Linked DNA regions of Homo sapiens: region 2 is linked to region 1. Evidence: fine-mapped expression QTL. A gene starts in region 1. The other region holds a variant in brackets. All regions are shown on one strand. Distances are between the middles of the regions.

The links. PIP is the estimated chance that this variant, and not a neighbour inherited with it, causes the effect.
Region 2: its variant is fine-mapped to the expression of ST8SIA6-AS1 in testis (GTEx, PIP 0.96).

What each region holds. Positions count from the first base shown.
Region 1 is chr10:17,380,396-17,395,469 of GRCh38, reverse strand. ST8SIA6-AS1 (ST8SIA6 antisense RNA 1) reads right to left here and starts at 8,534. Exons shown (of 3, transcript NR_034129.1): 1 at 8,395-8,534. ST8SIA6 (ST8 alpha-N-acetyl-neuraminide alpha-2,8-sialyltransferase 6) reads left to right here. Exons shown (of 8, transcript NM_001004470.3): 3 at 4,850-4,939.
Region 2 is chr10:17,405,197-17,420,270 of GRCh38, reverse strand. The region is part of intron 2 of ST8SIA6 (ST8 alpha-N-acetyl-neuraminide alpha-2,8-sialyltransferase 6); the gene reads left to right. It overlaps ST8SIA6-AS1 (ST8SIA6 antisense RNA 1), which reads right to left. Exons shown (of 3, transcript NR_034129.1): 3 at 11,985-12,303. Among named protein-coding and RNA genes, the nearest start is that of ST8SIA6-AS1, 26 kb to the right of the region's middle. The variant G/A (reference allele first, on the strand shown) is at 6,809.

The DNA of each region.
Region 1 (15,074 bases):
GAGTTTGCCTGGCAACCCTACTGAGTCCTCTTCTTTTTCTGTCCCTAGACTCAACTGCTCAGACTTCTAACTTGGTTAGTTTTAGGTGGGTCCCTCTGCATTCATATGCTGGACTTCTACCTGGAAAGGAGTTCTCCTGCAGCAGGATGTGATATGATCCCCAGTATATTAGTCAATTTTCATGCTGCTAATAAAGATATACCCGAGACTGGGTAATTCATAAAGAAAAAGACATTTAATGGACTCACAGTTCCACGTGGCTGGGGAGGTGAAAGGCATGTCTTACTTGGTGGTAGACAAGAGAGAGAATGAGAATCAAGCAAATGGGGTTTCCCCTTATAAAACCATCAGACTTATTCACTACCATGAGAACAGTATGGGGGAAACTGCCCCCCGTGATTCAATTATCTCCGACAGGGTCCTTCCCACAACACGTGGGAATTGTGAAAGCTATAATTCAAGATGAGATATGGGTGGGGACACAGCCAAACCACATCACCCAGTAATCCTTCCTGGGCTTACAAATCAGCCCACGCTTGTCTTGCAGCTATCTCTTGTGCCACGATGTTGTTCCTGGTTTAGAGTCTTTGCAATTCCTACTTTCACCTGGATCAATTTCTCTCAATCCCCTATGACTTGTCTGAGAGATGTTCCCAAATCAGCATTTTTTAAAAAAGGACTCAACCCAACGTCTTCACTTGTGGTGTGCCCCAACCTCTTAGATGGGATCTGCTCACAGCTAGTGTCCTCTCTTATCCCAGAATTGAGAAGGTCTCTTTCTGGAGCAAGTTTGAATGACATTAGATGAAAAAAGGAAGAAAACTCTGAAGACTCTTGAAATGAAAAGGAGGGGACAGGGAAGGTACAGAAGCAAAGATAACTAAAAGGGCTTCTCTGTCTGTACCTTTCATTACTGGGTGACTTCTTACCAGTGTGAGATGCTTCCTACCTCTATGGCAATAACAATGACTGATTTGAGGAAATAAAGCAATAATGACTTTGAGAGAGTAAGAACACATCTATTTACTGACTTCTGCTTGTCAGGTGTTTTTATATACATCCCATTAAATTCCTAAAATTCCTTTATTGGGTAAGGATTTTTTTTTTTTTTTTCTTAAAGGCAATCCCAAAGCTCAAGAGCTAAAGTCAGAGAGTGGAGCCCAGATTCAGAGACTGGCCTTGCTGACTCTGAAGACCCTGTTTGGTCCCCAAGACTTCATTCCGTCACCTTCACTTCTATCCCAGATCCTCTCATTTGTTTCCACGTATCTTCTGTGATTTTAGTTTGCGCAACTAAACCTATTCTGAGTTTTTATTTAAAAAGATACCCTCTCTGATTTAAGAAGAGGCATAGGAGACACAATCCTATTGGTGCCTACTGGTCACAGTTTCACAATTCAATACTGCAACGCCATCGTAATTCAAAGCATTGCTGGCTTGGTAATTCACTTCATTAACAGTCCTGCCTGCATAAAATACAAGGCAAATGGGAAATAAACAAATCCTTGGACAGTATAATACATTCAGAAAGCACAGAAGGTGATGCGTGGAGAATGAATTAGAGGGAATTGGGAAGGAAGTGGCGGGGGAGATAAATTCTATCAGGATTAAGAGGGACTTTTGTGAGCCCATGTGTACTCTGCAGGCAGTTTTTAGAAAGGATTTCTGAGAAATATTGGAGAATTACTTATGAATCTGTCTTGTTTATTTCTTTACCTTTATGCCTTCCTATCCCTCACTTCCCACATCCAATCTCCTAGGAAGTCCTGTCAGTCTTGCCTCTAGAATGGATCTCAAATCTGTCCACTTCTCTGCCTGCCGATGGACACAGGTGTGCTGAAGTCTCCAGTTACACCTGTGTCAGATCTCCTCTCTGGGGACACAGGAGGGTGGCTCATTTCTGACTCCCACGTTGCAATCAGGTGGGGCATGTGACCAGCTCTGGCTAATGATGCATTGTAATTCTGGTTCAAACATTTGGATACAGGGCAAGACCTTCCAGCATGTTCTTCTCCTGCCACATCAATTATAGAAGCAGCTTATTGAAATGAAGGTGCCACAAGACTGAAGCAATTTGGATCCCTGTATTAGTCAGAGTTCTCTAGAAAAACAGAAACAATAGAGAGATAGCAAGAGATTTATTACGAGGGATTAGCTCCCATAATTAGGGGAGGCTGAGAAGTCCCATGACCTGCCTTCTCCAAGCTGGAGCCCCAGGAAAGCCAGTGGCGTAGCTCAGTCTAAGCCCAAAGGCTGAGGAGACTTTGATGGAAACCATGGGGCCAACAGTGTAAGTCCCAGTCTGAATATGAAGGTCCTAGAACCAGGAGCACCGATGTCCAAGGGCAGGAGAAAACGACGTCCCAGCTCAAGAAGAGAGAGTGAACTCACCCTTCCTCCACTTTTTTGTTCTATCCAAGTGCTCAGCAGATTGGATGCTGCCCACCCACACTGGTGAGGGCAGCCTTTACTCAGTCTGTTGATTCAAATACTCATCTGTTCCAGAAATACCTTCACATCACACCCAGAAATCATGTTTTACCAGTTATCTGGGCACCCCTTTGCCCAATCAAGTTGACACAGAAAATGAACCATCACAAGCCCTAAACCACATGGAGCACAGCTGCCCTAGACGGGCCTCCAGACATACAGTGGGCATTTCATCGGCAAGAAACAAACCTTTGTTTTGTAAAGCAACTGAGAGCTTGACGTTGTTATCACATCATAGTCTATTCTATCCTGACAAGCAAAAGGAGTTGCCATCAGCTCTCTCCTAGAGTCCTGCAGAAACCTCCTAACTTTTTCACTTCCTCTCTTGCCCCATTTCTCCTCATTTCTCTGCAATCACCCCATGGCTCTTCAACCTTGAATCCTATTATCTTTTTATTTCCTCAGATAATCCAGGCTGCTCCCCATTTTGGAACCATTGCACATTTATTTTTTTGAGACAGAGTCTTACTCTGTCACCCAGGCTGGAGTGCAGTGGCCCGATCATGGTCACTGAGGCCTTGGACTCCTGGGCTCAAGTGATTTACCTGCCTCAGCTCCCCAAAGTGCTGGGACTAGAGGTGTGAGCCACTGGGCCTGGCCTGCACACACTTTTTCCTCTGCCTTGAACGCACTACCCACTTTGTTTGGATCATCCTTGGGTGTCTCCATCTAAATGACACTCACTTGGAGGCCTCCTCTGACCCCTCAGTGTGAGTAGAGACCTACTCTTCTGAGCCACCTACTCTGGTTCAACCATAACCAATCACGGTTCATAATTCTATATTCATTTGTTTGGTTATTTGTTGATTGATACCTTTCTCCTTATTCAGACTGCAAGCTCCATTAGGGAATAAGACCATGTCTATTTTCTCTTCCTCTCTGTCCTAAATAACCTGTGTGTGGGCCCAACCCATATTAGGCTATCAACGAATACCTTCAGGATGATGAAATAAATGCATTAACAGCAAGTTAGAGTTGCATATATATTTTTTAAGTCTAAGGAAAGAGATAGTTGATTTTTTTTTGAGCACTTAATATATGTGACGCATGTTACAAGTGGTTTACATTGTTTCCTTAGCATATATATATCATGGCAATAACACTATGAGGTAAGCACAATTATCCTTGATTTAGAAATATGGAAGTCTATGCCTGGAGTGGGTTAAATAACATGCCTATGTCCCTGAGGCTCATTAGGCAGGCTAACTTTGTAACCCATGTCCTTAACCTGACTTCAGATTTTTTTTCTTTTGTTCCACCTCCAATTTTCAAAGTTTATAAAACAAATAGCACCAGGCCAGTATATTGCAGCTATCAGAATAATCAAAGGCCAGATTTGTGTTCATTATGGAGAGAGTTAATGATCTCCTATGTCTGCATATTTTCTACCGAAGAAAACATCCTTTAAAAATAAACGCGACTGGGAGCGGTGGCTCACGCCTGTAATCCCAGCACTTTGGGAGGCCCAGGCAGGCGGATCACGAGGTCAGGAGATCGAGACCATCCTGGCTAACATGCTGAAACCCCGTCTCTACTAAAAAAATACAAAAAATTAGCCGGGCATGGTGGCAGGCGCCTGTAGTCCCACCACTCGGGAGGCTGAGGCAGGAGAATGGCGTGAACCCGGGAGGCGGAGCTTGCAGTGAGTCGAGATGCACCACTGCACTCCAGCCTGGGCGACAGAGCAACACTCCATCTAAAAAATAAATAAATAAATAAATAAAAATAAAATAAACACACAGTGATTAAAACTATTAAATAACTTGTTCATTGTAAATACTAACCTCAGAATATGAAAACCTGCCAGTATAAAGTCCTCAAAGGCCAGGCACGATGGCTCACGCCTGTAATCCCAGCACTTTGGGAGGCTGATGCGGATGGATCATCTAAGGTCGAGAGTTCCAGACCAGCCGGACCAACATGGAGAAACCCCGTCTCTACTAAAAATACAAAATTAGCTGGGCGTGATGGCAGGCGCCTATAATCCTAGCTACTCGGGAGGCTGAGGCAGGAGAATCGCTTGAACCAGGGAGGTGGAGGTTGCAGTGAGCTGAGATTGTGCCATTGCACGCCAGCCTGGGCAACAAGAGTGAAACTCCATCTCAAAAAAAAAAAAAAGGTCTTCAAAATAGAGTTCTCTTATGTTTGACTTTACAGCGTAAGTTTTTTGTTTTTTTTTTCATTTAGACCCATCAGAGGTGAAAATATTAATTTCCTTTTCCATGGAGAAATCCAATAATGGAGTAAAGATGAGACTTCATTTGGACACACTTTATCAATTAAATCTGATTTTTGTTAACAATATCTTATAAGCTCTCATTTTAAATCAATCTTTTTAAAAATCTCTTTCATGAAACAGCACATATCTGAATGAGAAGTCGCTCCAACTGACGGAGAAATGCAAAAATCTGCAATATGGCATTGAGTCTTTCTCTAACAAAACGAAAGGGTAAGTTCTACTCTTCACATTTAATTTCCTTTTACAACAAGGGTTTTATTTTCAGAATGTCTGACAGTGTCTCTGAAGTCATTTGGAATATGAGACTGTTCACTCTCAGGCTTACCATTGGGCTCTGAAGCTCCTGTTAATGAGCATGATGGACCTGGGGCCAAACAATGTGTACCAGGGTCAGACCCTGGCAGTGGGACTCAACTTATTTGTCCCTGGATCCGCATTTGTTAAAAATACCATGTAGGGGCCAGGTGCGGTGGCTCATGGCTGTAATCCCAGTGCTTGGGGAGGCAGAGGCTAGAGGATTGCTTGAGGCCAGGAGTTTCAGACCAGGCTTAGCAACATAGCAAAACCCTCATCTCTACAAAAAATAATTAAAATTGGGTGGCATGTGCCTGTAATCCCAGCTACTCAAGAGGCGGAGCCAGGAGGATCGTTTGAACCCAGGAATTCAAGGTTGCAGTGAGCTATGATGGCACCACTTGCACTCCAGCCCAGGGGACAGAGCAAGACCCTGACTCTAAAACTAATTTTTAAAATTAGCTGAATGTGGTGGCTCAGGTCTGTAGTTTCAGCTACTCAGGAGGTTGAGGAAGGAGAATTGCTTGAGCCCAGGAGTTCAAGGCTGCAGTGAGCTATGACTGCACCACTTCGTCCAGCCTGGGTGACAGACCGAAATCCTGTCTCTAAAATCAACCAAAAAACTCCTCAAAACACCATGTAGTTATACTGGCTAAACTTTTATAGGCCCCCAATCCTTTTGAGAACATGATATGTATTCTGAATGCTATCCTAGAAAAATACACACTTGTACAAAATTGTGCTTACAATTTCAGCCAGGTGAACGATTTACCCCCCAGTCTCAGCTGTGACACTCCCTCAGCTTCCCCTGCGCTGCTTACAATCCTATATTTTAGAGGGTTTGCTACATCATCTCCTTCAAAAAAAGGAAATCCAAGTGCTCCATGCCTCATCTACATGGAAGAGGCACTGGTGGCCTGAGACTCTGATTGTTCCTAGAAGGTGCCCAGTCCAATGGTGCTGGACAAAGGATGTGTGTGTGTTGGGCAGGGACACGAGGTTATGCCTGTAACCTCCCTGAAAGGAAATAACCCGAGTTTCATCTTGCTTTATGCTTGCCTGACAACATTTGAAGATGGTTCAGGATAATGTAAACGCCCAGTGGTTTCACCTTGCCCACTGCCTAGACAGAACCGATTTATCAAGACAGGTGAATTGCAATGGAGAAAGAGTAATTCACGCAGAGCTGGCTGTGTGGGAGACCGGAGTTTTATTACTCAAATCAGTCTCCCTGAGCGTTGGATCGGGGATCAGAGTTTTTAGAGATAATTTGGAGGGTAGGCGCTTGGGCAGTGGGGAGTGCTGATGGTCAGGCTGGAGCGAATCAGGGAGTTGAAATGAGTTTTTCTTGCCATCTTCTGTTCCTGGGTGGGATGGCAGAACTGGCTGAGCCAGATTATGAGTCTGGGGGGTGTCAGCTGATCCATCCAGTCTAGGGTCTGAAAAATATCTCAAGTACTGATCTTAGGTTTTACAATAGTGATGGTATCCCCAGGAGCAACATGGGGAGGTTCAGACTCTTGGAGCCAGAGTCTGCATGACCCCTAAACTGTAATTTCTAATCTTGTAGCTAATTTGTTAGTCCTGCAAAGGCAGACTGGTCCCCTGGCAGAAGGGGGTCCTTTCAGGAAAGCGCTATTATCAATTTTGTTTCAGACTCAAACCACGAACTGAATTCCTTCTCAAAGTTAGCTCGGCCTACACCCAGGAATAAACAAGGACAGCTTAAAGATTAGAAGCAAGATGTAGTCAGTTAGGTCTGATTTCTTTCATGTCATAATTTCCTCAGTTATAATTTTCAAAGATGGTTTCAGTAAGAGGTATTGCTGATTTCCACATGCCAATCCTATACAAGGAAGACCCAGTGAGCGGTCTTCCTGCCTTCATGTTTTTCACTTTCTCTTCCTAATAATAATTCTCTTTCTCTCTCTCTCACACACACACTGCTTCTTTTAATGTTAGAAATAGTGTTTATACAGCTGCCTCTAATCCATTCCTTCCCTTCCCTGGGGGTGTTGGAGTTTGATCTGGGGATAAAGAAACCAAGGTAGGTAAACCGGTTTAACTGTTTCTCCACTGAGCCTCTGGGTAAATAGACTAACGATATTTGCTTAGAGGAAGAGACACATCCATTGAGTGTCCCTAGCAGGCTGATCTCTGGCTGAGGTCCTGCTTAAAGTTAATGGAATCCAGGATCCAGGAGGCAGGACTGCCTGGAGAATGGCTCAAAGGCTGTGGAACTCCCTGGGTCTAAAAGAGAAACCGTTTAACAATTTAAAGTTTCCTGCTGTGTGAGGAAGCCCACTGACCTCACCTAGAAACCTCACCTACGATCCTGGGCCATGTGCAGTGTGGGAAGACAGGACTGGGGTGTCCACCCTTGATGTCCCAAGCCTGTCTCTGCTTTGTCTGAGTCTGTTGACATAACCAGAAATTATGTTTTACCAGCTATCTGGGCATGCCTGAGCCCAGTCAGGTCGACACAGAAAATGAACCATTGAAAGCCTTAAACCACACACAGCACAGCTGTCCTAGACGGCCCTCCAGATATACAGTGGGCATTTCATGGGCAAGAAACAAACCTTTGTTTTGTAAAGCAATTGAGAGCTTGGCGTTGTTATCATATCATAGTCTATTCTATCCTGACAAGTAAAAGGAGTTGCAATCTCTCTCCTAGAGTTCAGCAGAAATCTCTTAACTTTTTCACTTCACCTCTAGCCCCATTTCCCCTCATTTCTCTGCAGATCTTTGAAATTATTAGGAAAGCTTGATACTGGCTAAGATCTCTGATTTGGGTTAATCGATGTGACAGCAGTCCAGTCCTGTATGTTAGCTCCGTTTCTCACAGAAGGATAGCCCTATGAAAATCCTAGTTTTCTGGGCCCGGCGCGGTGGCTCACACCTGTAATCCTAGCACTTTGGGAGGCTGAGGCGGGCAGATCACCCGAGGTGGGGAGTTCGAGACCAGCCAGACCAACATGGAGAACCCCCCCCCCCCCGCCCCACCGCCCCGACTAAAAACACAAAATGAGCTGGGTGTGGTGGCGCATGCCTGTAATCCCAGCTACTCGGGAGACTGAGGCTGGAGAATCTCTTGAACCCGGGAGGCAGAGGTTGTGGTGAGCCAAGATCACGCCACTGCACTCCAGCCCGGGTGACGAGAGCGAAACTCCGTCTCAAAAAAAAAAAAAAATTATTGTTTTCTTTTCCTTAAATTCCAACTAGCGGGCCTTAAGCTTGCAAGGGGAATCCACGGTGCTGTGCGTCTTCCACTGGGCCCACTCAATCCACTTTCACCCTCATAGCTTTTCACCCTCCAGTTTCATCTCTGCCTGACTTTTCCCAGGGAGGCTGACGTACGTGGAACTCACCAATAGGTTCTGGGCTCTTTTGCCATCCGGCTTTTCTTTGGAGCAAGGAGGAGCATGAAAAAGAGATCAGAAAGAGGGAGGTGAAAGACCATCCCCAGGGCCTAGAAGCTGGCGGAGGCCTGAATAACTCCTCCCTTCTCAGGCCCAGTCCCAAGGCGCAAGGCGGCTTACGTCATCAGCGTGCGTCAGCAAGATAGCAGAAGCGGGGAGAGAGCTGTTCTGAAGACCCAGAGAGAGGCCTACCGGGTATCACGTAGCAGTAGATACACAGACTGAAACACTTCCTGTTTACGGGAGACTGTAAAACCCCTGCCCGTCCTCATTTGGGGCTGATGCCATTTTAGGCCTCGGCCTGAAATGGCCTGAAGGTCTGCCTTCAGGCATTCATTAAAACTGCCTGTTGCTCCACACTGCCTTGTGTTGTTTGTTGGCGTTCTCTCAGGGTTCGAACCAATACAAGAGCCTTGCAGGAGGAAGGAGAAGAAACTCTGTGTTTGATGTCGTTGCAGGTTAACTACATGCTTTTCTTTCTTTTTTCTTGGAGACAGTCTCACCGTCACCCAGGCTGGAGTGCAGTGGTGCGATGTCGACTCACTGCAACCTCCACCTCCCGGGTTCAAGTGATTCTCCTGCCTCAGTCTCCCCAGTAGCTGGGACTACAGGCGCGTGCCACCACGCCCGGCTAATTTTTGTGTTATTAGTAGAGGCAGGGTTTCACCATATTGGCCAGGCTCCTGACCTTGTGATCGAGCTCCTGACCTTGTGATCGAGCTCCTGACCTTGTGATCGAACTCCTGACCTTGTGATCTGCCCGACTCAGCCTCCCAAAGTGCTGGGATTACAGGTGCGAGCCACCGCGCCCGGCCTGTGTGTATGTGTGTGTGTGTGTGTGTGTGTGTGACAGTCTCACTCCGTCGCCGAGACTGGAGTGCAGTGGCACGAACACAGCTCACTGCAGCCTTGACCTGCTGTATTCAAGCGATCCTCCTGCCTCAGCTTCCTGAATAGCCAGGAAGACAGGTGCGTGCCACCATGGCTGGCTAATTTCTATTTTTTGTAGAGATGGGGTCTTTCTTTGTTGCCCAGGTTGGTCTCAAAACCCTGGGTGCAAGTGATCCTCCTGCCTTGGCCTCCCAAAGTGTTGTGTTTACAGGCACTTGAACCCAGAAAATCTGAGACAGGTCTCAGTTAATTTAGAAAGTTTATTTTGCCAAGGTTGAGAATGCGCCCGTGACACAGCCTCAGGAAGTCCTGACAACATTTCCCCTAAGTAGCTGGGGCACAGCCTGGTTTTATACATTTTAGGGAGGTATGAGACCTCTGTCAGGCTTCTGAGCCCAAGCCTGCACTTATACATCCAGATGGCCTGAGGCAACTGAAGAACCACAAAAAGAAGTGAAAATAGCCAGTTCCTACCTTTACTGATGACATTACCTTGTGACATTCCTTCTCCTGGACAATATGTCTCCAGCTCTCCCCACCAAGCACCTTGTGACCCCTGCCCCCACCTGCAAGAGAATAACCCCCTTTAACTGTCATTTTCCACTACCTACCTAAATCCTATAAAACTGCCCCCACCCCTATCTCCCTTTGCTGACTCCTTTTTCCGACTCACTCCGCCTGCACCCAGGCGATTAAAAAGCTTTATTGCTCACACAAAGCCTGTTTGGTGGTCTCTTCACACAGACACCGTGACAACATCAATCATTATATGTAAGAAGTAATTGGTTTAGTCTGGAAAGGGGGTGACAACTTGAAGCAAAGGCAGGAAGACTCGAAGTGTGGGGGGAACTTCCAGGTCACAAATAGGTGAGACACAAATGGTTGCATTCTTTTGAGTTTCTGATGAGCTTTTCGAAGGAAGGCCATCAGATACGCATCTATCTTAGTGAGGGGAGGGATAACTTGGAATAGAATGGGAGGCAGGTTTGCCCTGAGCAGTTTCCAGCTGGAGTTTCCCTTAGTGATTTTGGAGGCCCAAGATATTTTCCTTTCACATTTCACCCTTTTTCTTTTTTAAAATCTTTTGGAGAAATGATTTTACAAAAAAACAAACAAACAAACAAAAAACAAAACAGACTCTCTGGTTTCAGATTTCATCTGATCTTTCATTGCTAGGATGGTTTACTCCTAGATGGGTAGGTCCCGAAAGTTCATTTTAGCAGGTTGTGAAGTCTCCTGTCCTGTGAAAAGAAAATTAGGGGGAGGAAGGGGGAAAAAGCTACAAACAAAAGAACAATCCTGGAAAAATTGATATAGGCCAATTACTCGGAAGTCCATACATTAGTAAGTAGGTATGAAAGTAGCTTATGTATGTAAATTGGTTGCTGTTATTTTCTTCTTAAGTTTAAATTGTCTGGCTTCAGTTCTCATGGTTTGAAGAAAGCACAGCTTAGATTTTAGTGACTCCAAATTAGGAAAACTGGAAAAAAAAATGAAAACATCATTTTGAAGACTTGCAGCCAAGAAAAATTAGAATTTGGTCCAAACTGTAGAAAATAATAAAAATGGAAAAGAAAACATTAGGCAAGACTAGAATTTAACACGTGTACTATCGTTTTGAAACACAATTTTTTTCTCTCTCCAGTTTCCCATGTTATTAAAGACAAATCATGGTAGCACTGGTTTGCTTATTATACTTGGCCTAATTATTTGTATATAGTGCAGCATGAATAATTATTTTTTACATAGTTTTTTAAATTGGCTTTGATGGAACTCTGTTCCATAGAAGCAATCTCAGATAAGACTTTTTAAAAGCCAAGCCCAGTCATGGATTTGTGCCATCAAATACTTACGAGTTTCGTGAATTTCCTCTCGAGGTTCCAAGTTTATCCTGGGGGTACTGTGCCTGTCAGAAAGTGACATTCTGTTTTTACCACAGGTCAGAAACCCTGTACAGGGACTGTGTACACAAAATTTGAGGCCAGTTTTTCCAAGGGCTTTATTGGCTCCGTAAGTCAAGTTTGATTCTTTAAAGGAAAGCACATCATTCCAGTCAAAGCCTTGGTAAAATAACCAGTTTCTCCAATTGTGTCCTGTCACAAATGAAAACAGATTCCTATTGCACTTACGCAAATAACTGTATTGCCATAAGTTAAGAATATACACAAATAGTTTCCAAATTCCAGAGAAATCAGTTAGAAACAAATATGCTCCAAATTTTGTTCATGGGAGTATACTAAATTGTTACAAGCTGTCAGTAGCTCAAAAGAAATGTTTTAAGAGTCTGAAAAACAAAACAAAGGATCAGTAAACATTTTAAGCAAAAAGTCAAAAGGATTGGTTTAGTCCATGCAGTTAATTCCTGTGTTTTGCTTGATACTCATGAATATTTTAGCTCTCCATGAGTTCTGAAAGTTTTTCCTGCATTCTGATATCACAATCTACAAAGTTATTAGAAACGTGCATTTAAAAGCACCTGTTGAAGTTTTATAGCTGATTATAAAACCACCCTCTAAAGAGGAACAAAACAAGACAACAATTGTCCATGGATGAAAAAGAAGTTTTAAGACAGCCATAGTCAAAAAACACAATTGACAAGAAAATTTATCTCTGTGGCACACAATGATTATAACAATTATGATTATTACTGATAAGGTACACTAAGGTATATCAGAATTACAGGAGTTTCCCATAATTTTGGAACACATATCAATAACATATTTATACAAATACAGCCCTAAGAAAACTAAATACCACTTTATATTTGACAATGCTTCCTGTATAATTTTTATACCAAATAAGCCAAATTATGTCATTTTTTGGACTTTAGGGAACCTAATGTCTTAAAGGATTAATTAGATTAGAAAAAGACATAATTGATAATTTGATTTTAGAAAGTTTGTCATATATCAAAGGTTTAAAACACTTGATATTACAAAATAGGATTACAGGTCATTGTGAAGTCATTTATTTAACCAAAGTGATAATTCAAGTATTAAAAAAAAAAAGTGAAAACCTTCATTCTTTGTGAGAAGAGACTTAATTTTCTAAACAAGAAGCCCTAATAAAAACAGCATGAAGCCAATTACATTTGTTCAAAATTTTGTAAACAGTCTATAAAATTTAATCTTCATTATAAAATATAACTTCCACAAGCCTTTTATAACCTTTATAACCTTTATTAAGGAGTTGGTTAATGCTTCTAGAAAATCTTGTTAATCTGACACAGGGATCCGTATACTAGTTTTGCATCAGTGTGCCTTTGACACTAATGGTTAATTTATAGAGAAACTAAACTTATTTTAACTTTCAAAATCGGCCCTTACGATCTTATGGGCCCACCTCTTTCACAGTAGTCCCTGGGCCTTGAGGTGTTGAATAGCTTTAATTTCTTGCCCTGTATCTCAGGCATGCAGTTTATTTTGATTGGCATCTTGTACGGGGCCTGAAGATAAGGCTTTAATTGCTATCAGTGTTTAAGATTTAGCAGGACTTGATGTCCTTTTCAAACCCAGGAGTTAAAGCCCTGTAACTCAATGTTAACAAGGACTTTAAAAGCATATACAGGGGCCAGGTGCGGTGGCTCACGCCTGTAATCCCAGCACTTTGGGAGGCTGAGGCCGGCAGATCACCTGAGGTCAGGAGTTTAAAACCAGCCTGGCCAACATGGTGAAACCCTGTCTCCACTAAAAATACAAAAATTAGCCAGAAATGGTGGCGGAGACCTGTAGTCCCAGCTACTCTGGAGGCCGAGGCAGGAGAACTGCTTGAACCTGGGAGGAGGAAGTTGCAGTGAGCCAAAATTGTACCAATGCATTCCAGCCTGGGTGATAAGAGCAAGAAGATACATGGATGTAATAAACTTAATTAAAAAAAAAATTATCACTGAAACTTCTTTTATTGGAAAATTCCCAAATATGAAATATCTATTATTTAATTTAATACAACTTTATATTCTAAATTATGACCAGTTTGTCTACAAGTATTTATCCCATTACATTTACGTAATTATTTATTTTAATAGTTTACCTAGATTATTTATGAAAACTGTGATAGTCATGATTTAAAGTTATGAAACCACCATTGCAAAATTATAACTGAGACCGTGAAAAAATTTTGACTTGACTCCATCTTGCTGTTAACCTTCAAGCTGTCCTTGTTCATTCCTGAACACAGGCCAAGCTAATTTTGGGAAAAACTTAGTTTATAGTTTAGCTTTGAAACAAAGACGATAACAGTTCTTTCCCAAAACAAACCTCTTTATTGTCTGTGGACTAGACTGCCTAAAGCCACAGGATTAGAAGTTATGATAATCTTACTAAATTTGAGATACAGCTATTTTCATTAAACGCATATCAATGTCTCACTTATTAAAAATTACACAAGCAAAGATCATTCTGTTTGGGGCTGGGTTTACAGTTTTGTAACCCATGCCAAATTTTGACACCTCATAGTATTTGGCAAGGATAAGTATGAAACTGCTTGATTAATAAATGCAAACAAAAATGTGTGCTGGCAATTCTTAAGACACTTATAATATTACTTTACCAATAATTTTAAAGCCAGCTTATTTATTAAAGATTTTACTTAAGTTATATAACCTTTAAAAGCATGTGACTAGTCTTTTTTGGTATTTGATTTAAGCACTTTTTTTTAAAGCCAATTAATTAGAGCTCTTTTGTGTATTTTTACTAGTGAAACATTGTGTACACAACACCTAAAAACATATAAAGACGTATTAGGCATGCCGATGGAGGTACATTTTATAGATTTATAACCCCACCCCCTTTTTCCTATTATAGACTTTCAGATTCTTGATAATGTGTTTTACAACCCTAGGTAGTTGTCAGCTAAATAGCCTTAAGTTTGCACATTAAAGGAAACAACTCAGATGAAAATCAAATAGCAAAATTTACATCATAAGGTATAGAGAGAATAAGTCTGGTGGTACTAGAGGGAGACACTTTCATTTTTATTTGAGTCAAATTAAACTACACTCTTCCTTAAAAACCCGAGTAAACTCTGTTTCAATAACTATGTTAGTCAAACAATCAGGTGACGACAGAACTCGTTCAACTGAGAAGATAAAGAAAAAAAAAAACTTTTGCTCAAAAAAAGACAAAATCTTAGGAGAGAAAAACAAAAAAAACCCCTCAAAACATGAAGGCCTTTCAAATACAAACACGTACACATACACACAAACACACACACACACGCACAAACACACATATACACATATGCATACACACAAACGTGTACACATACAAACACATACACACAAACACACAAACGTACACATACAAACACACAAACGTACACATACATTCACACAAACATGTACACATACACACAAACATGAACACATACACACAAACATGAACACATACACACACACATCTTGGCTGTTAGCCTTTTCATTAAGCTGACTTTTAATCATGGAGCTCCTTACACAAATTTGTTTTTTAAATCTTATTACCATATTTCAGCTAGGACAAAATGCTGCTATTTCAGAAGTACAGCCATTGCTCTTTCAGTTTGGTCTGGCTGGCAAAAAGGTGGCCTTGTTATGTAAATAAAGCCCCTTTTGTAGTTAAAATTAAAAATCTTTTTTTTCCTTTTGATGGCCATTTTCCTCCCACTTCAGAGACCCTGTTCCCCATAATTTAGGGTTCCCCTTCAGATTTGACCAAGACAGAAAGAAAAAACAAAACCATTAAGCAAAACTAACAATGATCACA
Region 2 (15,074 bases), 25 kb before region 1:
CCAGCTAATTTTTTGTATTTTTAGTAGAGACGGGGTTTCCCCGTGTAGCCAGGATGGTCTCGATCTCCTGACCTCGTGATCCGCCCGTCTCGGCCTCCGAAAGTGCTGGGATTACAGGCATAAGCCACAGTGCCCAGCCCACTATCTCTTTTATAAAGCACTTTAGAGTCTTTAGACTTTGAGGTAATAATTTTTTTTAAAAGTTAACTATATCATGGTTATCATTTTAAAACCTCCTCCTTATCCATTTGGAAAACGTGTGTCTATTTAAGTCTCCACCAGGTTGTAATATTTTTTAAAGGAAATTCTGATGATATAAATGCAAAAGAAAAAATAGGAAAGCATCTTTCAAATTAGCATGACTGCATGATATCAGATTCAGAAAGGGTAGGTGGAAAGATAAAGTGTGTGTTAAAAAAATGTGTGCAAATCAATGGCTGTGAAGTTGTAAGAAGATTGTAGGAAAAAAGCTAAAGGATACAAGAACCTCCAATGTTTTTTGATAGCCATGTTTTAAACAAAAACAAGAAAGGGATATGATGCTCACTGTTTGGAGCAGATGGCATATTGTTCCCTGAGGGTGGGGAAATCAGAACAGCTCCTTTTTTCTTCTGTCTATGACTTCCTTTTCAAAGACAATGATCTTCATATTGGAAACATCTAGCCATAAAGGAGGCAATGGAAACGCGACTGTGTGGAGTCGTTATTTTTTTTGTTTTTTTGTTTTTGTTTGCTTGTTTTGAGACAGAGTCTTGCCCTGTTGCCCAGGCTGGAGTGCAGTGGCACAAACATGATTCACTGCAGACTCATCCTCCCCCTCAAGCCATCCTCCCACCTCAGCCTTCCAAGTAGCTGGGACCACAGGCACACACTGCCATGCCCAGCTAATTTAAAAATTTTTTGTACAGACAAAGTCTCACCATGTTGCCCAGGCTGGTCTCGAACTCCTGAGCTCAAGCAATCTTCCTGCCTTGGCCTCCCAAAGTGCTGGGATTACAGGTGTGAGCCACTGCCCCCAGCTCTTCCAGTCATTTTAAGCAAATTTCATTCTCCACATGGAGAAAAATTACAGCCTGGTACTAAAGGTTCTTTATATGTGTAATTCGATACTTACTACTGGTGATCATTAATGAATCACAGAGAAGTTGAGAGATGATAGAAAATGACAAAGGGAAAAAATGTTATTTTGCTATGTAAAGGGAAGATAAAGATTTATTTTGGAAACCATAGATTGGTGAGCATGACTAAATTTTTCTTTTTTTTTTTTTTTTTTTTTTGAGATGGAGCCTTGCTCTTATTGCCCAGGCTGGACGGCAGTGGCACGATCTCCGCTCACTGCAACCTCTGCCTCCCAGGTTCAAGCGATTCTCCTGCCTCAGCCTCCCCAGTAGCTGGAATTACAAGCACCTGCCACCACGCTTGGCTAATTTTTGTATTTTTAGTAGAGACGGGGTTTCGCCATGTTGGCCATGCTGGTCTCGAACTCCTGACCTCAAGTGATTCACCTGCCTCGGCCTCCCAAAGTGCTGGGATTACAGGCATGAGCCATCGCGCCCAGCTAGCTTGACTTAAATTACTGTAAACAATTTGAAAGGAAAATGATAACAATTGGAGGCCATATGTCTGGCTAACCTCATTTCTTGCTTTGGAGGGAAGCAAGGAGAATGCTTGTAACAACAAGGGCCCTGTAGGTAAAAGCCATGGGTTCGAATCCTCCTTTTGTCATCTATCAACTGAATGACAGTGGTCATGTCCTATGAACACTCAGAGCTTCAGTTTTCTCATATGTATGTAACCTTGTTGAAATCACAGGCCCATGGCATTCAGCCCAGGCTGGTATTTCAGGAAGCACAACTCAACATGCCAGAAAAAAAATTTGTGTCCTTATTTTCCTTCTTCTTAAAGTACATAAAAAGGGCTCCAGGCTGCACATGGTGGCACATGCCTGTAATCCCAGCACTTTGGGAGAATCACTTGAGCTCAGGAGCTTGAGACCAGCCGGAACAAAGCAAGACCCCATATCTGCAAAAAAATGCAAAAAAAAATTAGCTGAGTTTGGTGGCACATGCCTGTAGTCCCAGCTACTTGGAAGGCTGAGGTGGGAGGATTGCTTGAGACCAGGAGCTCCAGGCTGCAGTGAGCTTTGATCGCACTACTGTACTCCAGCCTGGGTGACAGAGTGGCCCTAATTCAGAATCCTCATCTATGCTGCAATCCCATTTACTCTTCTCAGTTATTTATTTCCCACACCCTCTCCCAAACTCAAGTTTGACAAATGCTGAAAGAACTTTCTCACTTACACCTGGACTATATAGATTTCTTTCCCCTTCCTGTACTCCCTCCCCTACCTCCTCACATACACCTCTGTACTTTATTATTTTTGACTGACAACAGATTTCTCCAAGTCTTACCCCTCCTAAGCCTTTCAGGTTCTATCTTCTATTAATTCCCTGTCAACTCTCTAACTCTGATGTGTGAAGAGCCCAGGACTGGTCTAGCTGAGACAATTCTCCCTAGGAGACAGATGGGGCAGGAACAAAAGGAGAAGCAGGGAAGGCAATTAGGGGCTTATTTTGGCAGCCTGGAGCTGGGTGGAGAGTCTGAGATCAACTTCATTCTTTCAGTGAACATTCATTGTGTGCCAGGTCTGTGCTTGGTGCTGGAGAATGTGCAGGGAGCATGCCAGACAAAAGCCTGCCCTCCTGGAGCTCACTGTGCTAAGTGGTAGGAAAGAAGTCGAAATAAATGCTGATGGCGGGGGTGGGAGGTGAGCATTCCATAGGGAGTAGCAAAAGTCACTCTGAGGGGTTGACATTCGAGTTAAGACCTGAAGCACTAACAGGAACGCTCAAGGCAGAGGAACAGCAGCCCTAAACATGGCATATTTGAGAAGCAGAAAGAATGGATCATGGAGGGTGATAGGGTTTGGATGGTTGTCCCCTCCAAATCTCATGTTGAAATGTGAGCTTCAGTGTTAGAAGTGGGCCTAGTGAGAGGTGTTTGGGTCATGGGGGCAGATCCCTCATGAATGTCTCGGCAGTAATGAGTGAGTTCTTATTCTCTGAGTTCACACAAGATCTGGTTGTTTCAAAAAGCCTGGCACTGTCTCCTCTCTCTCTCTCTCTATCCATGTGATGTGCTGGCTCTCCTTTACATCCCGCCATGATTATAAGCTTCCTGAATCCCTCACCAGAAGCAGATGCTGGCACGATGCTTTGTGTACAGCCTGCAGAACTGTGAGCCAAATAAACCTCTTTTCCTGATGAACTACCCAGTCTCAGGCATTTATTTACAGCAATGTAAATGGACCAATACAGAGAGCAAAGGAGGAAATAGACCTACTAAGTCAGGTTATGTTGTAGGATGCAAGCCTTGGTGAGGATGAGTTTTATTCTAATAATAAGTGAAGCCTCAGAAGGGTTCTGAGCAAGGGCATGACAATATGTCATGTATGACAAGTATGATTTAAGTTTTTAAAAGAGTACTCTGATAGCTGCATAGAGAATGTGTGGCAGTCAGGCAATTGAAGCAGAAAGACTACTTATGGGGCCATGGCTTCCATCCAGACAAGAGCTGATGTGCCTTGAATGAGGCAATAGAAGTACCGATAAAGAGAAGTAGATGGATTTACGGCTGAATCGTCAAAAGCCCGGGTATAGGAGAGAAGAGAAGGACAGGAATCCGAATGATAAATGTTTGGCTTGAGCAGTTCATTACCATCCATAGAGATGGGGAAGACTGGAAAAGAGGGAAGTCAAAGGTTATGTTTTGGATATGCTACATTTGACAAGACTATTAGACGTCCAATTGGAAATGTCAGATGGGCATTTCGACCATATAAATGAGTCTGGAGCTCAAGGGAGAGGTCAGAACTGCACATATCAATCTGGGTGTCATCGCCAGAGAGATAGGACTCAAAGCCAGAGAGTAGAATGAGCTCACTTAGCTCTGGAGATAGGTGGAGAAGAAAAGGGGATCTAGGAGCAAGTTCTAGGGTATTCCCACATTTAGAGGCTTGAAAGAGAAGCAGAAGCCAGCAAAGGAGAGGCAGAGGGAGCAGCCAGGGATGCAGAAAGAAAACCAGGAGAGTGTGATGTGGTTTTCAGGGAAGAGGAGCAGTTGACTGGGTCAGGTGTTCTTGAAAGATCAAGTAAGATAAGTGCGGCCCAGTACAGTGGCTCACCTCTGTAATCCCAGCCCTTTGGGAGGCTGAGGCCGGTGGATCACTTGAGGTCAGGAGTTCAAGACCAGCCTGGGCAACATGGTGAAACCCTGTCTCTACTAAAAATAAAAAAATTAGCTGAGCACGGTGGCGCACCTGTAATCCCAGTTACTCGGGAGGCTGAGGCAGGAGAATCGCATAAACCTGGGAGGTGGAGGTTGCAGTGAGCCGATATCATGCCACTGCACTCCAGCCTGGGTGACAGAGCAGGATTCTGTCTCAAAAAAAAAAAAAAAAAAAAAAAAGACAAGTGAGGCGTCCATTGAATTTGGAACATGGGGGCTTTTGATGAGCTTGAGATGAGCCATGTTGGGTGAGAGAGCCCTTTCTTTCCACTCTGCATGTCTGATATTTGAGTCTGAGAAATAAACTAACAGATCACTTAACGAGAGAAAAGGCTAACACATATATTATGTGTATGCGTGCATTCCAGGAAGGTGAGTGTCCAATGACCCAATGGGATTTAGAAGCTTATATACCCTTCTTCACAGGGAGGGGGAAGGGTGGGATGCAGACAATTTAGAGGAGGAGTAAATGAGTTTTAGGGAAGATGAATGGGCCTGAAGAACAGATGGTAGTCTGAGACAAAGCCCATCTGGACTCCTGGTGTGTCATCAATTCTAGTCTTCTTTTCCTGGGATAGGCTTCAGTCTTCTCCCAGTCATTGAGATACCCTGGGGAAGCGATTGACAATGATTGAGTATCTTAGGAGAATCCTGTGTTTAGGTAGGGAGGGACCTTTGGGGAAAGTCCTTCTCTGCATTTGCTGCTCTCCATGTGCTCTCAGTTTGAAGTCTGAAGTGTCATATTTTGGGCTTTCATTTTCTGAGTCCCAGAAGCTACATTAGCCAGTTTTAAGTCTTCTGATGAGGGAATAGATTGTTGAGGAAGGGGAAGCAGTAATTTTAGATAATTTGTTAGAGAAGTGGTGCTTACAGGGGGTAGAAAAATGAGTTGGGAGATGGAGAGGGATTATGGAGTCAAGGGAGGAGCGTGTTTGTGTGCTTGTGAGAAGGATAACCCTAGTTATGTAAGAGAAGGAAGAGATGAGGGGGTCAGTAATGTTAAGAAAGTGAGACGGGCAGGAGCCAGAACATACTGGGGGTTACTGATTTTTGATGAGAGCAGGGACATTTTTTTCTGTTGTAACATATGGTAAGATGAAAAACACAGGCACTCTGAAGGACTGAATTCTGTCTCCCCAAAATTCATGTTGAAGCCACAGTCTCAAATGTGACTATATTAGAAGATAAGGTCTTTAGGGAGATAATTCTATTTAAATGAGGTCATAGAGCTACCCCTTAATTTGATAGGGCTGGTGTCTTTATAAGAAGAGGAAGAGACACTAGCACTCTCTCCCTCATGCATGCACCAAGAAAAGACAATGTGAGGACCCAGCCAGCAGGCAGCTGTCTGCAAGCCAGGAAGAGAGCCCTCACCAGGTACCAACGATGCCAACATTTTGAGTCTTCAAAATATGAGATGAAAAATTTCTGTTGTTTAAGCCACTCATTTTATGGTATTTTGTTATGGCAGCCCAAGCTGACTAAGACAGGCACAGAAACTTAGAGATTTTTAGATACAGTGGGAGCAGTATGAAAGTGTTGCTCCTCTGCAGGCTTCTATTTTTTTCAATAAAGTATGAAGTGAGGTCATCAGCAGCAGAGAGTGAGTGTGGAGGTGGGGATATGGGAGGTTGGAGGAGACGGGAGAATAAATAACAATTTTGAAAGAGGAAAATGAAATTTATTAGGAAAACATAGTAGGACTGCCAGGTATCCTTAAATGCCCATTTGAAGTTCATAGAACTTAGAGTGAAATCATTCAGGAGAGTTTCTCTAGCAGTATTTGGCTAGTTGGGGGTAGCCCCAAATGGCAAAGAGTTGGGTACATCCATGCCTCCAAATTTGCCAGTCAAGGACAACAGAAAAAGAAACAAGAGAGATAAGAATGTTTTCAAGGGTGTGAGTTGGGGAAGGAGGGAAATGAAGATAGGAGGCGTGTATGAAGATAGGAGGCGTGTATTGGGCATGGGGGCTTCTCAATGAGATTAAAGAATCACTGCAGAGAGAATACTAGAATAAGTGAGCTGGATAAATAGAATGTATTGACATTAACAGTAATATATTCATTATATGAAACTAGTGATAAAAAATACCCACTTCACAGGATTATTCCAAGGAACAAATGGAAATACTTGGTAAACGACAATGTGAGTTATCAGTCTTACAGTAACTAAAGTAATGTAGAAGATAAAACAGATCTTGATTTCTTTAGGCCATTCTACTACAACTATCATGAACAAAATCATAATATGTAAATGATAACATGCTAACTAGATTTATGACCATTGAAGAAGAATATCAAAATTGTTTATTCTGCTTATTTTTAGCTCTGGCCCAATTCTAGGGCCATTCCCTTGTCAAAATGGTCAGTATTTCTGTGTAAGACAATCCTTTATGTGAGAAATTTCAGAGTGGGACACTGTGTAAGTAAGCCATTTGGTGTTTTCCAGGTATCAGCAATGATTAGACAGAAGCGATGTCAAAGAACTATAATTTTAATTTCAGGAATTTTAAGCCAATA[G/A]TTGGAGGAACTCTGAAGAAATGTAGACAGTCTGTTTTTCTTATATCTTGAATTGCTCAAGCAGAATGAGAATGTGATAAGACTCGTAAATTCCAAATTACATTCGACTGTATCTAATAAAGAGATTTAAGAAGTTGAGAAAATATATGTTATTACTGGGAAAGAAATAGAAAGTTAAGCAAAAAAAAAAAAGAAGAGGAGAAGAAAAGATAATAAGTAGTTGAACTAAATGGAAGCGTTCAATGCCCAAGGAAAAAGCCCACAGCTGTAATAAAAATAATCATCCTGAATATTATATTCCTTGAATTAAAAAATGCATTCAATCTTTGATAGAGTTGAAAAAGAGGTGTTTTAGATAACAAAATGCTAGCACTGTGTAAACACTGATCTCAAATTCTCCTTAGTTCTCTTATACTAATGTGCACTTATATGGATTTACAGGTCCTTAGAAGTACTTACTGATTCATACATACTTTTATCTTTTGTTAATTGATGCATAATAATGTACATAGTTTTGGAGTACACATGACAATTTAATACATTTGTATAATTTGTAAATATCAAATCAGTATACTTGGGATATCCATTAAGTATTTGTCTTTTCTTTATGCTAAAAACACTCACCTTTTTCTCTTGTAGCTATTTTGAATTGTACAAAAGATGGTTGTAAACTATAATTACCCTGCTGATCTATCTAACATTAGGTCTTATTTCTTCTATCATATTGTATATTACCATATATACTTTTAAGTACTTACAGATATTTACCCATTCCTGTAAAATTCTTGCAGTCAAAGTTTCTACAGACCTGAATATTAGGAAAATGCAGGTTTAGTCCTAAAAAGGATACCGTGATGCAGCCATTGATGTAGCAGTGACTGGCTCCCCTAGGCTCAAACAATGCATTGACCTTTAGAGGGCAGCCAAGTGGAGCTCACGCAGGTTAATTCCAGTGCATGGCCTTGTTAGATCACATCATATCCCCTGCCTAGTGCCAGACACTTAATGCAGGAATAGTATGGTTTCAGGAGCCCCTCTCTGTCCAAAATTTGGTACCTGCTTCAGAGTCAGAATCCCAACTTTAGTGCCTTTGATTGGATTAATAATTTCTCTGAGCTCCAGGTCTGGGGATTGGGCTTGGCTTGGCAGTTGGGTTAGTCAATGGGATAGGATGTGGCTCTAGAGTTGCAGTGGCTGGAGGTTGGAGGGCCTGGGATGAGGGATAGGCTAGCAGGGAGAGCAGGCATTGTCCTAAGAAACAGAAGCCCAAAAATCTGTGATGTGAGGATGGTCACAGCAATTGCTAACCATGGTCAAGAGGGATCCCCAAAGGTGAAAGCTGAGAATGGCAAATCTCTTCAGCTGGAGTGGGGGTAGAAGTTGAGACAGGGGCAAGCATGGGCAGGCTAGGGAGGCAAGAGGGGCCAGGGTGCAGCGAGAGGGGCTTAAATGATTGCAGCCATTTGAACAGGCTGGCCATGGCTCTCTTTGGTTTTGCTTAAAGGCAACTGAGTTAGGAGTGAGGGCAGAAAAAAAAAAACATTCCTTAAAAGCATTTTCTGAAATGCAAATATATGTTCATCATGAAGTGTGAAACATTAAAAACTCATTAGAACTCATTGCCATGCATGATCCTGCTCACAAAGCCTAGTTTTTCAGATGAATAGGAAATAGGGCCAGGAATTAAAGAACAAGAACAGATATCCTCCAGGTGGAAGGTACTTTAGAGAGAAACCTGACATGTCTTGGAAAAGAGGTCTTGCAGGCAAATAGAGACAAAGCACCTGGGCTCTGCCAAGTTAGAATGAAGACAGCAAAGCAAAAGAAAATCTGCAACAAGACAAAGTAGCTCCAACTTAACTAGATGCAGGTTATTCCAAATTTAAGTGAAATAACAGTGGGGCATTTTATCAGCTGGGAAATTGGGAATAAGCAGATAGAAGATTAATACACTTTCATGCAATCAAGAGTTCAAGTCTGGGCCAGGTGCAGTGGCTCATGCCTGTAATCCCAGCACTTTGGGAGGCCCAGGTGGGAAGATCACCTGAGGTCAGGAGTTCGAGACCAGCCTGGCCAACATGGTGAAACCCCTTCTCTACTAAAAATACAAAATTAGCCGGGTGTGGTGGTGGGCACCTATAATCTCAGCTACTAGGGAGGGTGAGGCAGAAGAATTGCTTGAACCTGGGAGGCAGAGGTTGCAGTGAGCCGAGATCGCACTGCACTCCAGCCTGGGCGACAAGAGTGAAATTCTATCACACACACAGACACACACACACACACACACACAAAGAGTTCAAGTCTGTTGGGTAGGGTTATTCCTTCTGAGTTGTCTGAAATGACATGTGATTGATTGCATTTCTCAGAACCGACTACCACATTCAAGTAATTTTATTCCATCTTTTTTGAGGATCACTGTTTTGTGTGTTTCCTTGTTGAAATTCATCTGTAATTGTATCGCTTCATTTTGTGATTGATAGGTCCCTTGGGATGCTCTGCTAACCCTTCCTAATTACAGTTTACCTAAGCACAGTAAATTTGGTTAGCCAATTCTCTCACACTTTCATTAAATATTAATGAGAACACTTGAGTAACATCATTTTAAATATGGTAAAATCTCAATTAAATAGAATAAACAAGGATTGAGTTTTTCTAGTTAATTAAATCTTATAATTAGCTGAAGGTTAACCAGGGGATCTTTTGGTTTGAAACCCTCCTGGTGATTTTTTTCTAGTGTCTTATTTTGTTTTTCCATCTGATCCACTCCAGGTTTTAATTTTCCCTGGATGAGTTACCATCTTGCAATACCTCATGCTTAGTTGTCTCTTATTCATTCATTCATTTGTTCAAATTTATTAGGAGGCTACTAATAGATGAGGAAGTCATACCAGAGACAGACATGACAATGGTAAAACAGCACATAAAGGGCAAATTCTAGAAGTTGTTCTTTCAACAAATTCTAGTTTATAGTTTTTGCTATTATTGTCTTACAAAGCGTGGGTTATAGAAAAAAAAAATCTTGGTTGATGGGGAGATTCTTGTGTGCTTCCTGTTAACTGAATGAAGTAGTTTTCCTCCTTTGCGTTTCAGAATTTTGAAAATCATCATTATTTTTTGACAAGGCCTTTGCCTCATTTATAAAACTGTCTCAGTACGATGAGACATATCACTTGCTATTTATACTTTATTGTGACATACTCTTCTTGCTATTTCATTTCTTATTTAAGGTGCATGCAAATGTTTGGGCATGATTTCTGAAAGATTTTTTGCACTAATCTTTGTTCTGATGACACTCAGCTGAACTCCACAAATAAACCCCAAACAGTCTTTAGAAGATACACAAACACTCTCCAGTTTTGAATGTTAAACCAGCATATTAGGATTCTGTTCACTGCTCACATGTGTCTGACAACTAGTTTTTGTAGTGTTAGGTTTTCATGGTATATCATTTCCCTGGGGCTTCCACATTAATTAGGCAGCTTTTCCATATTGACTCCCAGACTTGGACCGGTTTTCATTGGTTCACTTCTTTCTTGCTCTGTTGGCCAGAAATCACTCTATGGTTTTTGTTTATTGTTTGTTTGTTTGTGATGGAGTTTCGCTCTTGTTGTCCAGGCTGGAGTGCAATGGCGCGATCTTGGCTCACCACAACCTCTGCCTCCTGAGTTCAAGCAATTCTCCCGCCTCAGCCTCCCGAGTAGCTGGGATTACAGGCATGCACCACCATGCCGGCTAATTTTGTACTTTTAGTAGAGACGGGGTTTCTCCATGTTGGTCAGGCTGGTCTCAAACTCTCGATCTCAGAAGACCCGCCTACCTTGGCCTCCCAAAGTGCACTGGTACAACCACAGCTTACTGCAGCCTCATACTCCTAGGTTCACTTTTTTTTTTTGGTATAGGCAGGGTCTTGCTATGTTGCCCAAGCTGGTCTTGAACTCCTAGGCTCAAGTGATCTGCCTGCCTTCGCCTCCCAAATTGCTGAGATCCTGCCTTGGCCTCCCAAATTGCTGAGATTACAGGCATGACCCACCACACCTGGCTGCTCTACCCTATTAAACTTTGTTTTGCCTTGTTTTGTTCTTTTAAAGAAGATTCCACAACACCCTCTACAGGAGTTCCTAGGTATTGAACCTGATGCTTTCCTGAAAATGAATATAAAACATGAATATGTAAAAGTTGAGCTATAGACTTGCAGATTGTAAGAGAATCTTCACTCTTAGATGAGTAAACTTATTTTAAAACTGTAGTTATGGTTCAAATATTTAAGTATTTGTAAATTATTTAATGTTACAGCACCTAATAGCCATCTCAAACACTCAAATTAGCATGGAGTCAACACTGAATACAGATAAGGTATTTTCCCATTAAAATTCTTATTTCAGCTGGATGCTGTGGCTCACGCCTGTAATCCCAACACTTTGGGAGGCCAAGGCAGGCAGATCACCTGAGGTTGGGAGTTTGAGACCAGCCTGACCAATATGGAGAAACCCCATCTCTACTAAAAATACAAAAAAAAAAAAAAGAAAGAAAGAAAATAAAATTAGCCAGGCATGGTGGCACATGCCTGTAATCCCAGCTACTTGGGAGGCTGAGGCAGGAGAATCTCTTGAACCCGAGAGGCAGAGGTTGTGGTGAGCCAACATTGTGCCATCACCCTCCAGCCTGTGTAACAAGAGCGAAACTCCGTCTCAAAAAAAATAAATAAATAAAAATAAAAAATAAAATTCTTCTCTCAAAATTCACTTATTTGAGTTTTAGTGAAGATGTATTTATTTATTCATTTATTTATTTTATCTTTTTTTTTTGAGACAATCTCGCTCTGTCACCCAGGCTGGAGTGCAGTGGCACCATCGCGGCTCACTGCAACCTCCACCTCCCGGGTTCAAGCGATTCTCCTCTCTCAGTCTCCCAAGTAGCTGAGATTACAGATGCCCCCATGCCCAGCTAATTTTTGCCTTTCTAGTAGAGACGGGGTTTCACATGTTGGCCAGGCTGATCCTGAACTCCTGACCTCAAGTGATCCACCCTCCTCGGCCTCCCAAACTGCTGAGATTACAGGTGTGAGCCACCGTGCCTGGCCTGAGGAAATATTTAATTAGCAGAGAAATTTACTTCTTTTTTTGGTTGAGAAAAAGAACTTGCTGATGGTGATTGCATAGCTAATATGGACACGTAAGCATGTATATAACTGACATTTAATGACATTTCCAGAACTCACATTCTTGGATTGGGTGTCTTCTCAGAAGCGACAGGGTTTCTTCGGTCGTCATCCAGTTTGCTTGCACAAACCCTATTCAAGGGTTGCATTTGTCGGGCTGGATCCAGAGCGGAGCCTGACTGGGTGCTTTGGCCATGATGGATGGGGGTTACTCTCTTCTCTGTAGCAGAACTCCTGGAAGACTGAACCATGCCACTGAATCAGGAAAATAATTATGTTAGATGTCCCCAGTAACATAAGTCTCCTCTTCCATTATTTCCTTTATTATGATTTTTATCTGAAAATTAAAAACAGAACACTTATTGGTGACATGATGAGAGCTCACTTTACTTTTGTAGCTTTCAAATGGACTCACTGCTTTTCCCACAAACCCTTCTGCCTATGAGACAGTCCAACATTTCTTGTGTGTGAAGTCTTGCTCTAGACTATTATGAAAAAGACGGTCAGGGCAGAAGAACTTGATCCAGGAGACTTTTAAGAACTTGTTACTCAAAGTGAGACCCTTAGTCCAGTGGGACTGGCATTGTCTGGGAGCTCGTAGATATGACACCAAACCAGGTTCATTCTGCCTGCACACAGTAAGCCAGTCATGGTGACAATGGGTTTTGCAAAAGAGAAAAGATTTACTCACAGGGCAACCCAGCCAGGAGATGGGAGAACAGCTCTCAAATCTACCTCCTCAAGGATAATGCTTAGGGATATTTATGGAGTAAAGAATTAGGATGGTCTAAGGTGGGGAAAGGTGATTGAGGGTGGGGAGAAGTGAGGTAACTGGTGATCTGAGCAAGTGCAGTCTGGGCTCACGGCTCTTCTTAGGACACATGGTCAGAAAATAGCAGTGTTAACATGATCTGAGGGTGGAGTTTTGGCCCTCTGATGGCAAGTGTCACTTTTCCGACATCCATGCAGGTGCATTCAGAGGGTTGGTGGTCTCAGCTGGTTTGAACTGGACAGGGGCCGCCCCAAGTTCCTGAAAGACAACTTAAGCAATTGTTACTATGGTGACATATATGTCAGAGTGTTATTTATAGGGAAGCTAGTGAAGGCTAAGTTATAGCATTTAGCAGCCTGACTTTAAGCTATGTGGGTTTAAAAAATCAACAAGCAGCAAAAATCAACAAGGTGCAAGCAACTTAAAAGATTAGCCCTCAGTAGCCGGACGTGGTGGTTCACACCTGTAATGCCAACACTTTGAGAGGCCAAGGCAGGCAGATCACCTGAGGTCAGGAGTTCAAGGCAGCCTGGCCAACATGGAGAAACACCATATCTACTAAAAATAAAAATTAGCCAGGTGTGGTGGCACATGCCTGTAATCCCAGCTACTTGGGAGGCTGATGGGGGAGAATCACTTGAACACGGGAGGCGGAGGTTTTGGTGAGCTGAGATTGCACCGTTGCACTCCAGCCTGGGCAACAAGAACAAAATTCCATCTCAAAAAAAAAAAAAAAAAAAAGATTAGCCCTCGGTTTCAGAAATGTAGAATATTAGGGCCTACCCTGGATCTACTCAACCAGAATCTGCATTTTAACACATTTCTCAGGTGATTCATGGGCACACTGCAGTTGAAGAAGTGCTGCCTTAAGAGGCCTGCCAAGACAGTAACAACCGCCGCTGTATAGACTATGAATGGGAGAAAAAAGTAACTCTTCCTCAACCCTCATACGTTTGTAGTTGGGACAGACTCACAAGAAAAGACAGATTAACAAGAGAAAAACAAGCAAGTATATTAATGCATGCAGTGCACATCCCGTGGGAGAAAAGTAACTCAAAGCAGTGGCTTTAAGAGTCTGGCTTATGTCGTATATTCGACAAAGAACAATACAGCTCAGAGAAGTGACAAGACAAAGGGGAAGCTGTCCCAGGATCCTAGAAGTGGGAAAATGTGGGAAGGCAAATTTATGGGAAATGAAGGGAGTGAAGTCCACTGGCAGAATCTCCTGGCTTTGTTGCTGAGCTGATAAAAGGTTGTAAAGGAGAATTTACATCCTGGCTTTAGGTGCAAAATAGGGGGAGGGTAGAAGACCTTTTGTCTTTGCAATTCTCTGCCCTGCTTTTAGGCAAACAGAAGGAAGGCAGAGAGCTTTTCTGTCTGCTTCTTAATTGCCTTTAGCTCAAAAAACATTTATGTCAAAGAGGCATATTTTGAGGTGACACATTCTGGTTTCTTTGAACAAATACTGCTGAATACTGATTATTAAGCAGGGTCTCCACTCCAATGACTGTGCTAAGTGTTTTTATGCATTGTCTCATACAGATTTTGCATCAAATTCATCAAAGAGAGGATTATTCTCATTTTGCACCTGAGGAAGCTGAAATCATAGAAGGGCTAAATAACTTTCTTCTTTTTTTTTTTTTTTTTTGAAATGGAGTCTTGCTCTCTTGCCCAGGCTGGAGTGCAATGATGGCATGATCGTGGCTCACTGCAACCTCCACCTCCTGGATTCAAGTAATTCTCCTGCCTCAGTCTCCTGAGTAGGGGGCACTACAGGCACCCACTACCACGCCCGGCTAAGTTTTGTACTTTTAGTAGAGACAGGGTTTTGCCATGTTGGCCAGGCTGGTCTTGAACTCCTGACCTTGTGAAATGCCCACCTCGGCCTCCCAAAGTGCTGGGATTACAGGAATGAGCCACCACATCCAGCCAATAACTTTCTTAAGGTTAAGCATCTAGTATGTATCAGAGCAGGAATTTGAGTGATTGTCCACTTGCCTTTAAAGTTTATCCTCTTGATCACTGTAATTTGTTTATTTGATTCAAATATGTTGTCAGCAACCTCATTTGAGGTGTTAAAAGATAATTTTCATATAAGGTAAAATCATGTATTTCATACAGCTACGAAAATGATCACTTTTTAAATATTTATTTTATTTTTTATTTTTTAGACAGGGTCTCACTGTTGCCCAGGATTTCAGTGGTGTGATCGTGGCTCACTGCAGGCTTGAACTCCTGGGCTCAGGCAATCCTCCTGTCTCAGCTTCTGGAGTAGCTAGGACTACAGGCAGGTACTACCATGCCTGGCTATTTTTTAAAGTTTTTTTATAAAGGTG